3 linked regions of the Homo sapiens genome follow. The protein of the gene in region 1 interacts with the protein of each later gene in a pairwise test. Each region holds a gene or a part of one and is shown in the gene's direction. Other genes may lie near its edges.

Region 1 (4,657 bases):
GAATAGGCTAAAGTGAAGAAATCAATAAATGTGTTTTGGCTCTTTAGAAATAATTTCTGCTCAGCAAATAGAATGTGCTAAGTTCTTTAATTAAAATTCCATACCTCAAGTGGAGGTAATTTGGGAGATGTTTCTGCTTACCAAGTATGATGTTTTTTTTACTTTGCTTACTTTTTGTTTTAACTGCCTAAGGTTGAGCCTTTCTGTCTTTTAAGGATAAAAGAGATGGTTGACTAGCCTAGAAAAGGTCTTCTAATGATTCTTTCCCTCTGACTTTATTTCTTGAGGTAGAGCTTCAAGAAGGGATAGATTCAAATAGAATAACTTGCTTAAGAAGCAAGGCAAGAACACAAATGTGGGTGGTGCATCTTTGAGCCATTCATTCTTGCAAAAGCAAGTTTGTTTGCCTGCAGTTCAGACCAACAGCCAGAAGCATGAGGAGGAGCTGGCAGAGCCCACAGCCGGCTGCATGCACTTACTTTTCCATGAGCGCTTTCCACAGCCTCGAGTTCAGGACCAGCTTCACTCCAGTCATTTTCTGGAAGAGCTCGTGATTTTTTTCAGGGGAGGGAAGAAAACTCATTCAAATTTAATGAAACCTTATGAGTTGGTTTGACTCACTTAACCAATGAATATAAGCCAAACTTAGATTTGCCAGGGGAAAGCAAACCTTTTTTTTTTTTTTTTTTTTTGGAGAGAGAGTTTTGCTCGTCACCCAGGCCAGAGTGCAATGGCGCAATCTCGGCCCACTTACTGGGATGTCCACGTCCCAGGTTCGAGCAATTCTCCTGCCTAAGCCTCCCGAGTAGCTGGGATTACAGGCACCTGCCACCATGCCTGGCTAATTTTTGTATTTTTAGTAGAGACGGGGCTTCACCATGTTTGCCAGGCTGGTCTTGAACTCCTGACCTCAGGTGATCCGCCCACCTTAGCCTCCCAGAGTGCTGGAATTACAGGCGTGAGCCACTGTGCCCGGCCTGTAACAAATATTCTTACCAGTGGCCACTGGTAATACACTTTCCTATTAATAATGATTTGATAATTTTCCATTGTATATGTGTAAATTTATTGTATACATGAAAGAAAGAGAAATACTAAGAAATGTAGGTAATATTTTTATTTTGGAATGTCAGTTTTAAAGATTATGGCTTTTTTTTTTCTCTAAACACTAAAAGTTCAACTTCTAAAGAGATTATATTTTGTAAGTTTCTTAGAATTGGGTTTCCTGCCCATAGGGATACATCCTTAAGTCTGATTTGAGTGAATGAAACCATTGCTTTTATATCTTATAGAAATGCCCAGCTTACTTCTAGCTGTACAGATTTCACCTCTACCTCACACATATAGATATCAGTAAAGCATGGAGACTCTGAAAGGTCAAATTCAAGGGAATAGAAATCTATAGATCATAGGGATTCTACCAGTGGACCTCATTGTCCCTTGGTCCTAAGAAGTAACTCTGAAGATCTCAGATTGCTTGAGTTGGATGTCCTTTGTAGAGACAAGCTTGCCCAGCCCCCTCCTTTCACAGCTATTCCCAAATAGCTGAAGAGACTGACCAGTAGTGGGGGCAGATGGGAAGGTTTAGGTGAAGTAAGAGGAAGATGTATAAAATAATATTCTTAAAGAAGCTCTCACAAAGCTGCAGAGCCAGGGAGTAGTGGCATATTCAAGTGTATTCAGGGTCTCCATTATTTCAGATACCTGGAGATGGTGTTCAGGAAAGCATCTGGGAGGCCTCTGGCTGTCCAATTCAGCACTCACTTCTCTTCCTTCTATGATCCTGAGAAAGTTACTCAATACCTTCATGCTTTGAGTTTTTCCATCTAGGATTTGGAAGACAGAGAGTAATTATAAAAGAAAAAAATTATAAAAAACTGACATATTTAGGCTCACACCTGTAACCTCAGTGCTTTAGGAGGCCAAGTCGGGAGGATCTCTTGAGCCTAGGAGTTCGAGGTTACAGTTGAAGCGAGTAGTGATCACACCACTGTACCCCAGCCTAGGTACCAGAGCAAGACCCTATCTCTAAAAAACGAAAACAAAAGAAAACTGCCATGTTTCCTAGAAGACACCTTTCGTGTGTATACAGATAAAACTGTGTACATATTTCCTATATATGAAAAAGTGTTTGTGCATGTGTATATATCTATGTAACTGTGTATGTAGCTAAATGTGTACCTTAACACATAGAGCGGCTAAACCAGGGAATCTGGGTCAGTGCATAGATGTATGTACATATTTACTACACATTTTCATAGAACTAACTATGCCATGGATAAGATTGGAACTCAAGAGTGTTTCAAAGTCGGGGTAAGGTGATGTGTTCCATTCATTTTTCTGAACTGACTGGGTACTTAAAGAGTGTGTTACTAGATTTTAGCATATATAAATAGCAGTTTTTTAAATATACATTTTGGGTCTGATTTTTAATCTCACTTATTAATTTCAGTTATGATATTATAAATATATACCTGTTAGCATCTTGAATAACTAAGATATTTTATGCTGAGTAGAGAGCATGATAAAAATCTTATTTCAAAGTCATGGCCTCCATACCAAATACAGCCTAGAGAATTGTTTTAAGATCCAAATGACCCCATTTTCCCCTTGAAGTGTTCTTTTTAGATCTGTGTTTCAAAGAGAATGGAACAACTGGAGGAAGTACAAGTAATTTCCTAAGGACCAGCTAATTAACTGATAAAATCGACTTTTCATAAATACATTGCAATAGACGGCTGGGGAAATAGGATTAACTGTTATGACAGCCCTTGAGCCTAAAACACATTGATCTTAATCCTGTTTCACGATGAGATTATTCAGCTGGATTTCTTTATTAATGTGTGAGTTTAGTACAGTAGAGGCAGTGCCTTTCCTTTGGAGAGGGTACATCATTTTGGTCTTTGGTCCTAGGTGTGGTGTAGCAAAACACCACGTTTTCTTGCTTGGGCCACCTCTATTCAAAAGGATCATCCTAAAGTCTTTTTGTTTGGCAAGGTAAGAAAGAAAACAGTGGGCACTTTAAAAATAAGAGGTTTGAGGGAAAACAAGGCCATTGGTTTATACTTTTCAGGAATCAGTAGTTCTGAAGGTAGAAAAGAATGCTGATGAAAGCGTGAGGAAAACATGGAGGAGAGATTCTTTGACTCCAGGTTTTACAGTGTTACTTTCAAAGTGTTTGTTAGTTAGCCCAGTACCTTACTGCTGGGAGGGTGCTAAATGATTTGAAATCCTTCCTGTTTTGATAGCCTCAAAGATTCTTAGACTCAGTATTCTGAAGGACCCAAGACCTACAGTACGCATTTACTTAAAGGAGCCATCTGTTTTACAAAATCTGCTTTCGTCTACCTTTAATTCAGTTAGGCTTATTTAAAACTGAATTTTTCTCTTACCCTTCTGTGTCTCTGCGCTGTTAGTCATCTAACAAAACCCAGTAGGCTTACCAGTCCTTTGTATTTGGTGAGAAAGATTTGGGACGGGGAGTTACATCTGTGTCAAGATCACTTGTGTAGGTGCCAGAAGTAACAAAATCCTGGCATCCATGAAGAAATTACCATTTATCCCCTCCTCTTTCAGCATTCTTCAGTTTTACAGGAGTAAGGCATGGGTAGCATAATGAAGCCGAAAATGTGTACTGTCTCCCATTTCTACCATCTAGTAGTATCATTGTTTTAATTTCAGCCCTAGAAAAAAATGTTTCTTGGTGGTGGGGTGGGGTGTGTGATTCTCTGCCGAGAAACTGTTCCCTCCACACATTTCTTGGGTTTTAGTGGTGGTAAAGTACATCCAGCCTCAGAGGCTGACAGCCCCCTCTCGGGCATACGGCTGCCCTTGAGGCAGCTTGGGCCCCATCTGTGCCCTGGCACACAGTGCTTCTCCACTTGGAATCCAAGGAGCTCAGAGGCTTGTCATGTTGCAGCTCCCAGCTCTTGGACAAGTGCCAGGCATGCTGATGCCATTACCGGATTAGGTTGCTTTTTTAAAAATTCATTTTGTGAACTCATCAAGCTCATTTAACAGAGGCTTTGGTCGTCAGTTTCTATCATTGTCCTATCCCTCTAGGCTTGGCTTAAAGGAGTGGCAAGATACCAGGCCCCTAGTATGTGCCGGCACTAGTTAGAGTGTGTATGTATAAATTATAACCATAATGTAAGTACACCTTTGGGCCTGGCAGGCAAATGACAGTGGGTTAGCAACTCAGATGTTAAAGGGAAAAGAATTCCCCGTAAGAGGACTCTGCATAGAAAATAAAGGGGGCTCCCTTGTTTAAAAAGAAAGAAGCATCTAGGGGAAAATTGAAGCAGAGAGTGCAAGATTCCAGGGAGCAGGATAAGATCTAGTTATTAAAAGGCCAGGAGTTTGAGGCTGATCTGAACAGCCGAGGCATGGAATGGGGATTCTGTGGTCAGAAGGACTTCAGAGAAATGCTTCCAGTGGCACTGAGTTCGCTGGAGGGGACATGAGGGCAGGCAGTGAGAAGAAGCATACATAAGACATTTGAAAATAGCCAAATATGTGATGAAAAAAAGGAAACAACCATGAGCTAAAATTTATCTCCTGGATTTGCTTTTCATAAAGAAGTATGCTTTTCCTTGAAATAAAGTCTGGTTGTCAGACGGGCTCCATCCGCTTTCCCTCAGGGTGATTATTGAAGGTT
Region 2 (5,183 bases), on another chromosome or scaffold:
GAGACCAAGCAGGTGAGTGGCTCGCCCCGAGCCTGGCTCCTTCCCACCCAGCCCTGGCGGCCCTAGCCCTGCCCTAGCCCCACCCGTGCCTGCTGAACCTTTCTCCGTCTCTCTAGTTCTTCCTCCAGTTCCACTTTAAGATGGAGAAGCCCCCGGCTCCACCCAGCCTCCCTGCTGGCCCCCCTGGGGTGAAGCGGCCTCCACCCCCGCTGATGAACGGTCTGCCCCCTCGGCCACCGCTGCCTGAGTCTTTGCCACCGCCCCCGCCAGGAGGCCTGCCTCTGCCACCCATGCCCCCCACAGGGCCTGCGCCCTCAGGGCCCCCGGGACCACCCCAGCTACCCCCGCCAGCTCCAGGGGTCCACCCCCCGGCCCCAGTGGTGCATCCCCCTGCATCTGGGGTCCATCCCCCAGCTCCTGGCGTCCACCCCCCAGCTCCTGGCGTCCATCCCCCAGCCCCTGGGGTCCACCCACCAACCTCTGGGGTCCACCCCCCAGCTCCTGGAGTCCACCCTCCAGCCCCCGGGGTTCACCCACCAGCCCCCGGAGTCCACCCACCAGCCCCTGGGGTTCACCCACCAGCCCCAGGGGTCCATCCTCCCCCATCAGCGGGGGTTCACCCCCAGGCCCCGGGGGTGCACCCAGCAGCCCCCGCCGTTCACCCTCAGGCCCCAGGGGTGCACCCACCAGCCCCAGGGATGCACCCTCAGGCCCCGGGGGTCCACCCCCAACCTCCCGGGGTCCATCCGTCGGCTCCTGGGGTCCACCCTCAGCCTCCGGGAGTTCACCCCTCAAATCCTGGGGTGCACCCCCCAACTCCCATGCCCCCAATGCTGAGGCCCCCACTTCCCTCCGAAGGCCCAGGGAACATACCTCCCCCTCCCCCAACCAACTGAGAAGCTGCTCCCTCCCCCAGCAAGCCCAGCGCCAGGTGCTCTTGCCTTTTCCCACTGAGAGAAGGCTGCTCTTTTGTACTGCCCCCCGCTCATTAAACAGCCTCCCCCAGCCCTGAGTGCACTGATGTCCGCAGCGCCGCCCTACTGTGTCAGTGTGTGTGGGAGTGCCAGGCACAGCACCATCCCCCAGTTTGGGCCGACTGGGGAGGGCCTGGGGCCCGCCAGGAGACACCTGTGGGAGGCCTGAGAGATGGCTGTACCTTGGAGATGGCCTGGTGGAGGACAGACCCCACCAGCCAGCTAGGAGGGGATCTGGGGTCCTGTTCTGGGGAGGGAAGAGCAGACTCCACGATATCCTTGGGGTCTCCAGATAGCCCACCAGGGGTGGGGAGGGTGAGCAGGGACAGGGCGCCCCCACTGACTTGGGACCCTCCTCCTCCAGGCCCACACCTCAGCACCCAGGACATCTGGGCCCCCCGCCCCCAGCGCTGTCTAGTTTGGTTGCCTGGCCGTCACTCCCAGCCTGGTTCCCACTCCTGTGTCTTCTGGGGATGGCCCTCAAGGACGGCATGTTGACACATCAGGCCCAGCTCTATCACTGGGGAGGGAGATAGGCTGCCAGGGACAGAAAGGGCTCTTTGAGAAGGCCACTCTGCCTGGAGTGGGGGCGCCGGGCACTGTCCCCCAAGGTCGCGGCAGAGGAGATAGGGGTCTGTCCTGCACAAACACCCCACCTTCCACTCGGCTCACTTAAGGCAGGCAGCCCAGCCCCTGGCAGCACCCACGATGCGGGACCTGCCTCTCACCAGCCTGGCCCTAGTGCTGTCTGCCCTGGGGGCTCTGCTGGGGACTGAGGCCCTCAGAGCAGAGGAGCCAGCTGTGGGCACCAGTGGCCTCATCTTCCGAGAAGACTTGGACTGGCCTCCAGGCAGCCCACAAGAGCCTCTGTGCCTGGTGGCACTGGGCGGGGACAGCAATGGCAGCAGCTCCCCCCTGCGGGTGGTGGGGGCTCTAAGCGCCTATGAGCAGGCCTTCCTGGGGGCCGTGCAGAGGGCCCGCTGGGGCCCCCGAGACCTGGCCACCTTCGGGGTCTGCAACACCGGTGACAGGCAGGCTGCCTTGCCCTCTCTACGGCGGCTGGGGGCCTGGCTGCGGGACCCTGGGGGGCAGCGCCTGGTGGTCCTACACCTGGAGGAAGGTATGTGGGGCCCAGCCCCAAGCTTGGCACCGCCGTCTTCCTTCAGGTGGGCCGGGTCCTCCTAGGGAAGATCAGGGGCTGGCAGAGCCCCCACCCTGGGCAGGGAGGCTGTGGTCTTGTTCCTAGGACTGGGTTGCGGGTCCGTGGCCTGGAAGGTGGGCACCACACTCTGTCCTGTCCCCGAAGCCCAGCTCTTAGACTTGCCCCTGCCTCGGTGCCAGGGAGAGAGCTGCTGCCTTCTCCCCACCCCTGAAGACGACGCAGGGCTCGGGGCCAGTGGAACCCTTCTTCCCACAGCCCCAGCCTGTTCTCAGGGCCGCTGGCCTAAGATACTCCCTGCGGGGAAGGGGCTTCATCGGGCACCCCAACCCAGAGACCCCAGGGCGGCAGCCCCACCCACAGCCTCAGACGCAGCCCCTGCCTGCCCCTGCCGTCACCGCTCCCTGGCTGCAGGAAGGCAGCTAAGAGGGGCACCCTTGTCCCCCGCTTGAGGTCCCCTGCACAGTGGCCAGAGCGGCAGGGACAGATCCCAAAGATTCCCGGGGGGTGTGGCCTTCAATGGCTCAGGCGTCCCCTGCTGTCCCGGCTGCAGTGACCTGGGAGCCAACACCCTCGCTGAGGTTCCAGGAGCCCCCGCCTGGAGGAGCTGGCCCCCCAGAGCTGGCGCTGCTGGTGCTGTACCCTGGGCCTGGCCCTGAGGTCACTGTGACGAGGGCTGGGCTGCCGGGTGCCCAGGTACCAGGGAGTTGCATGGGGCAGTGCCCGGGCCGTGGCGGGGGGCATGGATTTGTTGCAGGGTCTGCAGTACTGAGAACAGCGTAGAACCAGTGGCGATGGGAGGAAGGGGACCGGTAGAGCGGGGCTGGGTAAGCCTCCATCCAGCCGGGCTGAGCCCTGGTCTCCGCAGAGCCTCTGCCCCTCCCGAGACACCCGCTACCTGGTGTTAGCGGTGGACCGCCCTGCGGGGGCCTGGCGCGGCTCCGGGCTGGCCTTGACCCTGCAGCCCCGCGGAGAGGGTAGGTCCGCGTGGAGAGGGACGGGGAGCCGGGTCGACTGCCCCCGGGCCCCCAGCCCCTGAGCCAGCCGCGTGCCCACCCACCGCAGACTCCCGGCTGAGTACCGCCCGGCTGCAGGCACTGCTGTTCGGCGACGACCACCGCTGCTTCACACGGATGACCCCGGCCCTGCTCCTGCTGCCGCGGTCCGAGCCCGCGCCGCTGCCTGCGCACGGCCAGCTGGACACCGTGCCCTTCCCGCCGCCCAGGTGCGCGCAGGCACCGGGACACGGGGCAGGAGCGGGCGGGGGCGGCGTGGCCTCGTGGCCGCTCTCAACTCCTCCAATTGCGGGTTCCAGGCCATCCGCGGAACTCGAGGAGTCGCCACCCAGCGCAGACCCCTTCCTGGAGACGCTCACGCGCCTGGTGCGGGCGCTGCGGGTCCCCCCGGCCCGGGCCTCCGCGCCGCGCCTGGCCCTGGATCCGGACGCGCTGGCCGGCTTCCCGCAGGGCCTAGTCAACCTGTCGGACCCCGCGGCGCTGGAGCGCCTACTCGACGGCGAGGAGCCGCTGCTGCTGCTGCTGAGGCCCACTGCGGCCACCACCGGGGATCCTGCGCCCCTGCACGACCCCACGTCGGCGCCGTGGGCCACGGCCCTGGCGCGCCGCGTGGCTGCTGAACTGCAAGCGGCGGCTGCCGAGCTGCGAAGCCTCCCGGGTCTGCCTCCGGCCACAGCCCCGCTGCTGGCGCGCCTGCTCGCGCTCTGCCCAGGTGGCCCCGGCGGCCTCGGCGATCCCCTGCGAGCGCTGCTGCTCCTGAAGGCGCTGCAGGGCCTGCGCGTGGAGTGGCGCGGGCGGGATCCGCGCGGGCCGGGTCGGGCACAGCGCAGCGCGGGGGCCACCGCCGCCGACGGGCCGTGCGCGCTGCGCGAGCTCAGCGTAGACCTCCGCGCCGAGCGCTCCGTACTCATCCCCGAGACCTACCAGGCCAACAATTGCCAGGGCGTGTGCGGCTGGCCTCAGTCCGACCGCAACCCGCGCTACGGCAACCACGTGGTGCTGCTGCTGAAGATGCAGGTCCGTGGGGCCGCCCTGGCGCGCCCACCCTGCTGCGTGCCCACCGCCTACGCGGGCAAGCTGCTCATCAGCCTGTCGGAGGAGCGCATCAGCGCGCACCACGTGCCCAACATGGTGGCCACCGAGTGTGGCTGCCGGTGACCCCTGCGCCGCGCGGACTCCTGCCCCGAGGGTCCGGACGCGCCCCAGCTCGCGCCCCTTCCCATATTTATTCGGACCCCAAGCATCGCCCCAATAAAGACCAGCAAGCAACCGGCTGGGGTGTCCGTGCGTGTTAGGGGGCCCGTGGGACCTCCCTTGCCGTCTCTCCTCGCGCACGGCCCGGGTCCGCCCTGTAGCGCTCGCTGTCTCTCCCCTGCCTGAAGCGCCCCACCACCGTCTTTCAGGCCCCGGACTTGGTGCCGGGTCCAGGCGTAAAGGAGCAGGTGACTCTGCGGCCGCAGCACTCGCTTTATTTCGCCAGAGTCGCGGGGCGTCCAGAAGGGGCCCCTGGACTCCGGCGCGGGGCCGGCTCAGTCCCGCCCCTTGCCTGCGCGGAGCTTCTGGCGACTCCCAGGCCGCTGCTCCTCGTCGGGACGCCTCGGGGACACCCAGGCCTGCTTCTTCCTGGGCTCGGCGTCCCTGGAGTCCCGTGCCCACGGCCGGTGGCCCCCTTCGCGTGACTCCCAGCGCTGGGGTAGGGCTTCCCGGGGCTCCCTGGCGGCCCGTGGCCTCTCCTCTTTCCGCGGCCTCTCTTTCTTAGGTCTCTCCTCCTTCCGCGGCTTCTCCTTCCGCGGCTTCCCCTCTCTCCGAGGCCTCTCCTTGGGTCCCCGGTCTGCGAGGGTCACACGGTCCTCCCGGACGGCCTCTCCGGTGGCCTCGCCGGGCTCCTCTTCGTCGTTCTCTGCAGCCTCCCGACTCCCGGGAATCTTGGGTCTGACCTCTGCCTCGGCCCGGGGCGCAGGCGGCGCTGATGGAGGCGCCTGGGCCTCGAACTTAGGCTGCAAGACAGAGTGGGGTCCTGGGGTAAGCGCCCAC
Region 3 (4,657 bases), on another chromosome or scaffold:
GACCAGAAGTGTTTTGGATTTTAGGGGTTTTTTTGGTTTTTGTTTTCGAATTTTAGAATATTTAAATTATATTTACCAGGTTAGTATCCTTAATCTGAAAAATCTGAAATCCAAAATGCTCCAGTGAGCATTTCCTCTGATAGTCATGTTGGCACTGAAAAAATTTTTGATTTTGCATGATTTTGGATTTCAGATTTTCAGATTAGGGATATTCAACCTGTATACCAAATAAAATGTTTTTTAAGTTGGGCATGATGGTGCATGCTTGTAGTCTCAGCTCCAGGAGTTTGAGTCCATCCTGGGCAATGTAGTGAAACTCTGCTAAATTGTTTTTAAAGTTCTTGATCTGTTTTTATATGTGATGTTGTATGTAGGACAAAATTCTGTAAGCATTCAGGTTTTTGTGCAGACTTGTCTTTGCCCTCCACCTTACTTGTTCTTTGTCCTCTTTCTTTATGTGTGTATGAGCCAAGTTCTATTCAGATAGGTTGGTACTTTCTCAAACAATATATTCACTGAGAGTAACATGTTTTTCTTTATACTTAAAATATGTTAGTTGTCCTTTCATTTTTCACAATTAAGTTTTATGAACTGATTTTGCCTCTGTTTCTATATAAAGTGAAACATAGAATGCAGTAGGTGATCTGATTTCTGTTTATTGTATTTCTGGTGTAACCATTGGGAATCCATCCTTCTTTCCTAATCTGTGTGGTTTGGGGTGGTACATTTTTTCCCCAAATTCAGAATTGGAACACATGATCCATGCTCAAGTGTCTAGTGCATTGGAATCCTCTGTCTTTAGTATTAATTCACAGATGGGCATTTGGCTCTAAATAGAGATAATGAGACAAAGTAGGCTTTGTAAAAATTACGACTGTTTTGGGGGTTCTTTTAGATATTTGAAACTCAAACGTTCATAAATGCCAAGTCCACTCAAGTGAAGATGGAATGTGTTGTACTGACAATTAGTTTGGGACAAATACTCATAATAATAAGTGCTCAAATATAAATTGCTATTTGCCAGGCACTATTTTAAAGGTTTTACGTTACTTGTTTAATCTTCACAACAACTGTTTGCTGTAGATACTCTTATAGTTCCCATTTTGTAGATGAGGAAATGTGGCCCATAGAGGTTATATAACTTGTCTCAGTTACACGGTTAATAATGGTGGTACCAGTATTTATATTCAGACAATTTGGCTCAGAGGTCAGGTTCTTAACCACTATTACAAATGGTTACCCAAGTTAACCACCCATTTCCTTGCCTTTATTTAGAGGCTGATTTTGTTTAAAATTAGCTTTACTAAGTTATAATTTGCATAAAATAAGTCACTGGTCATAAGTGTGTAGTTGAATGAGTTTTGACACATGAATACACCTGTGCAGTCACCACCCTAATGAAGATATGATACATTTCCAGAAAGTTCACTTTTGCCAGCACTTCATACTCTGTGTCTACCTTCACACCTAACACCTGGCAACCAGTGATCTGCTTTGCATTGCTGTCATTTTGCCTTTTCTGGAATTTCATATTAATGGAGTCCTTTAGTCGGTAGTCTTTTGTGTCTGGTTTCTTTCGTTTGGTATAATGTTTTGAAATACACTGATGATGTTGAGTGTACTGTTTTTTTTCTTTTAATTGCTTAGTATTATCCCATTATATGGATATAACATGAACTGCTTATATATTTGCTAGTTAAAAGATTTTTGACTTGTTTCTAGTTTTTGGCTATTATTTAGAAAATTCTGTAAGCATTCAGGTTTTTGTGCAGACACGTCTTCACATTTTTAGGGTAAAAATATCTAGTAGTGAATTGCTGAGTTCTCTGCCAAGTGTATGTTTAGTTTTAAAATAAACTGCAAAACTTTTTAAAAACTGCCTCTACCATTTTGCATTTCTTTTTTATCTTTTTTTGAGATGGGAGTCTCATACTGTCGCCCCAGCTGGAGTGCAGTGGCACGATCTCAGCTTGGTGCAACCTCTGCCTCCTGGGTTCAAGCAATTCTCCTGCCTTAACCTCCCGAGTAGCTAGGATTACAGGCGCCCGCCACCATGCCAAGCTAATTTTTTGTATTTTTAGTAGAGATGGGGTTTCACTGTGTTGGCCGGGTTGGTCTCGATCCCTGGACCTCATGGTCCCCACGCCTCGGCCTCCCAAAGTGCTGGGATTACAGGTGTGAGCCACCACACCCGGCCACCATTTTGCATTTCTACCAGCAACAATTAAAAGTTCTTTTATTTGGTTTGTATTTATTTCTTGTATTGTTTTATTTGTTTTTAATTGTTTCACATCCTTGCCAGTGCTCAGTGTTTTCAGTCTTTTAAATATTAGTCATTTTTGTGGATATGTAGTTTTATCACATTGTTATGTAACATATTTTTATGTGCTTATTTTTCATTTGCATATCTTTTGTGAAATGTCTGTTTTGATCTTTGGCCCATTTTTTCCCTTAAAATTGCATGTCATCTTGCGTTGTAAGTGTTCTTTATGTATTCTGCATACATCTTTTGTCAGACCTGTGTATTGTGGTATTTTCTCTTAGTCTGTTGCTTATCTTTTCATTTTCTTAATAATTTTTTAAAGTGCAAAAGTTTTTTCTTTTTTCTAATGTATCGATAAAGTTTTCAGTTTTAAGTCCAAATTGATTTTTATTATTTTTAATTTTTGTGTTCTAGCTAAGAAGTTATCTAACATGAAATTAGAAAACATTCTCTTGTATATTTTCTACTAGAAGATTTATAGTTTTCTTATGGTTATGATCCACTTCAAGTTAGTTTTTATACACTGTGTTTGGTAAGGGTTGAAGGCTTCATTAATATTATAACATCATTTGTTGAAAAGATCATCTCTGTTCATTGAATTTTCTTGGCACCTTTCTCAAAAATTAACCATATATATGAGTTTATTTCTGCAATTTTTATTCTGTCCCGTTGGTGTATATATGTTTATCCCTACACAAGTGCCACACTGTTTTGATTATGGTATTATTATAGTACATCTTGAAATCAGGTAGTGTAATTTTTATCCTTTATTTCAAAGTTGTTTTGATTATTTATGTTCTTTGCATTTCCACATAAATCTTAGGATTAGCGTGCCAATTTCTATAAAAAAGGATGTAGGATTTTAATGTTGGTTACTTTGAATCTGTGATTTCATTTGGGAAGATGACATCTTAATATTATCTTTTGAATCATGAACATAGTATATTTCTCCAATTATTTAGGTCCTCTGTAATTTCTCTTAGCAGTGTTTATGCTTTTCAGTTGAGGTTTTTCACCATATTTTTAAAATTTACCCCTAAGTATTTTATGTTTTTGATGGTGTTCTAAATGTTGTTCTTTTAATTTCGATTTCTAATTGTTGCTAGTATGTAAATACACTTTTTTTATGTTGACCTTGTATTTTATGAAATTTTAAGTTTACTTACTAGTTCTAATAATTTTTTGGTAGAACCTATAGGATTTGTAAGAAAACAGTCATGTTATCTGTATATGAATATACTTTTACATCTTTTAAATTTATATGCCCTATTTAAAGAACGTACGTTAATGGATTTATTTGATTGGGTAATTGTTTAAAAGGATTTTTTGGACCTTTATTAGTGAGTGATACTGGTCTGTGAATTTCTTTTAATTTTTTTCTGGTTTTCATATCACAGTGTATTGGTTTGCTTGGGCTGCCGTAACAAAATACAACAGACTAGGTGGCTTAAACAACAGAAATTTATTTTCTCATAGGTCTAGAGACTAGAAGTACAAAACAATGTGTAGGCAGATTCGGTTTCTTCTGAGGCCTGTTTCCTTTCTTTTTTTCAAAAGAGGTGGTCTTGCTGTCTCGCCCAAGCTGGAGTACAGTGGCACCATCACACTGCTTACTGCATCCTCGAACTTCTGGGCCCAAGGGATCCTCCTCCCTCATCTTCCTAGTAGCTGGCTCTACAGGCATGTGTCACCACACCTGGATAATTTTTATAAGTTTTTAATAGAGATGAGGGTCTTGCCATCTTGCCTAGGTTGGGCCACTTGTTGTTGTGTCATAGCTTTGTCACCTCTCAGTCTGCATGTTGCCTGTATCTTAGAAGAATACTGGTTGTATTGGATTGGGGTCCACCAATATGACTGTATTTTACCTTGATTATTTCTTTAAAGGCTTTATTTTCAAATGCAAATTCTGAGATACTGGGAGTTAGAATATAGGGATTTTCTTTTGCGAGGGATGGAAATACAATTTAACCCGTAACATAGGTATTATTGCTGGTTTCACTTTTTCTTTCCCTCCCTCCCTCCCTCCTGCTGGTTTCACTCTTTCTTTCTTTCTCTTTCTTCTTTCTTTTTCTCTTTTTTTTTTTTGCGTAGAGACAGGAGTCTCACTGTGTTGCCCTGGCTGGTCTTGAGCTCCTGGGCTCAAGTGATCTTCCCGTGCTTTGACCTCTCAAAGTGCTGGGATTATAGGCATGAACCACTGTGCCTGGCCAGTGCTGGCTTCTAAAAGACGATATGGAATGTTCCCCTTCTATTTTCTGAAAGAGTTTGTATGAAATTGGTGTTTTTCCTTAAGTGGTTGGTGGAACTTACTGGTGAAGCCATAGTTTTGGGTCTTCATATATTTTGTATGATTTCACTCCTTCCCTTTGTGGGAAGGTTTTTAATTACTAA

The links. Proteins that work in one complex are often made in the same cells at the same time.
Region 2: the proteins of ETV5 (region 1) and AMH interact in a two-hybrid assay, tested with the Homo sapiens proteins (one large-scale study listed by BioGRID and IntAct).
Region 3: the proteins of ETV5 (region 1) and COP1 interact in binary tests that used the Homo sapiens proteins (3 or more experiments, as listed by UniProt).

Annotation. Positions count from the first base shown.
Region 1 is NC_000003.12:186,098,672-186,103,328, reverse strand, and holds part of ETV5 (ETS translocation variant 5), read left to right. Parts: intron 1-4,657. UniProt on the Homo sapiens protein: Binds to DNA sequences containing the consensus nucleotide core sequence 5'-GGAA.-3'.
Region 2 is NC_000019.10:2,247,651-2,252,833, forward strand, and holds AMH (muellerian-inhibiting factor preproprotein), read left to right. Parts: upstream 1-1,672; 5' UTR 1,673-1,682; coding exon 1,683-2,094; intron 2,095-2,686; coding exon 2,687-2,829; intron 2,830-2,988; exon of another isoform or gene 2,989-3,001; coding exon 3,002-3,110; intron 3,111-3,198; coding exon 3,199-3,358; intron 3,359-3,448; coding exon 3,449-4,307; 3' UTR 4,308-4,423; downstream 4,424-5,183. Other genes in the region: SF3A2 (splicing factor 3A subunit 2), read left to right, coding at 1-12, 117-896; JSRP1 (junctional sarcoplasmic reticulum protein 1), read right to left, coding at 4,679-5,146. UniProt on the Homo sapiens protein: Plays an important role in several reproductive functions. Induces Muellerian duct regression during male fetal sexual differentiation. Also plays a role in Leydig cell differentiation and function.
Region 3 is NC_000001.11:176,196,576-176,201,232, reverse strand, and holds part of COP1 (E3 ubiquitin-protein ligase COP1), read left to right. Parts: intron 1-4,657. UniProt on the Homo sapiens protein: E3 ubiquitin-protein ligase that mediates ubiquitination and subsequent proteasomal degradation of target proteins.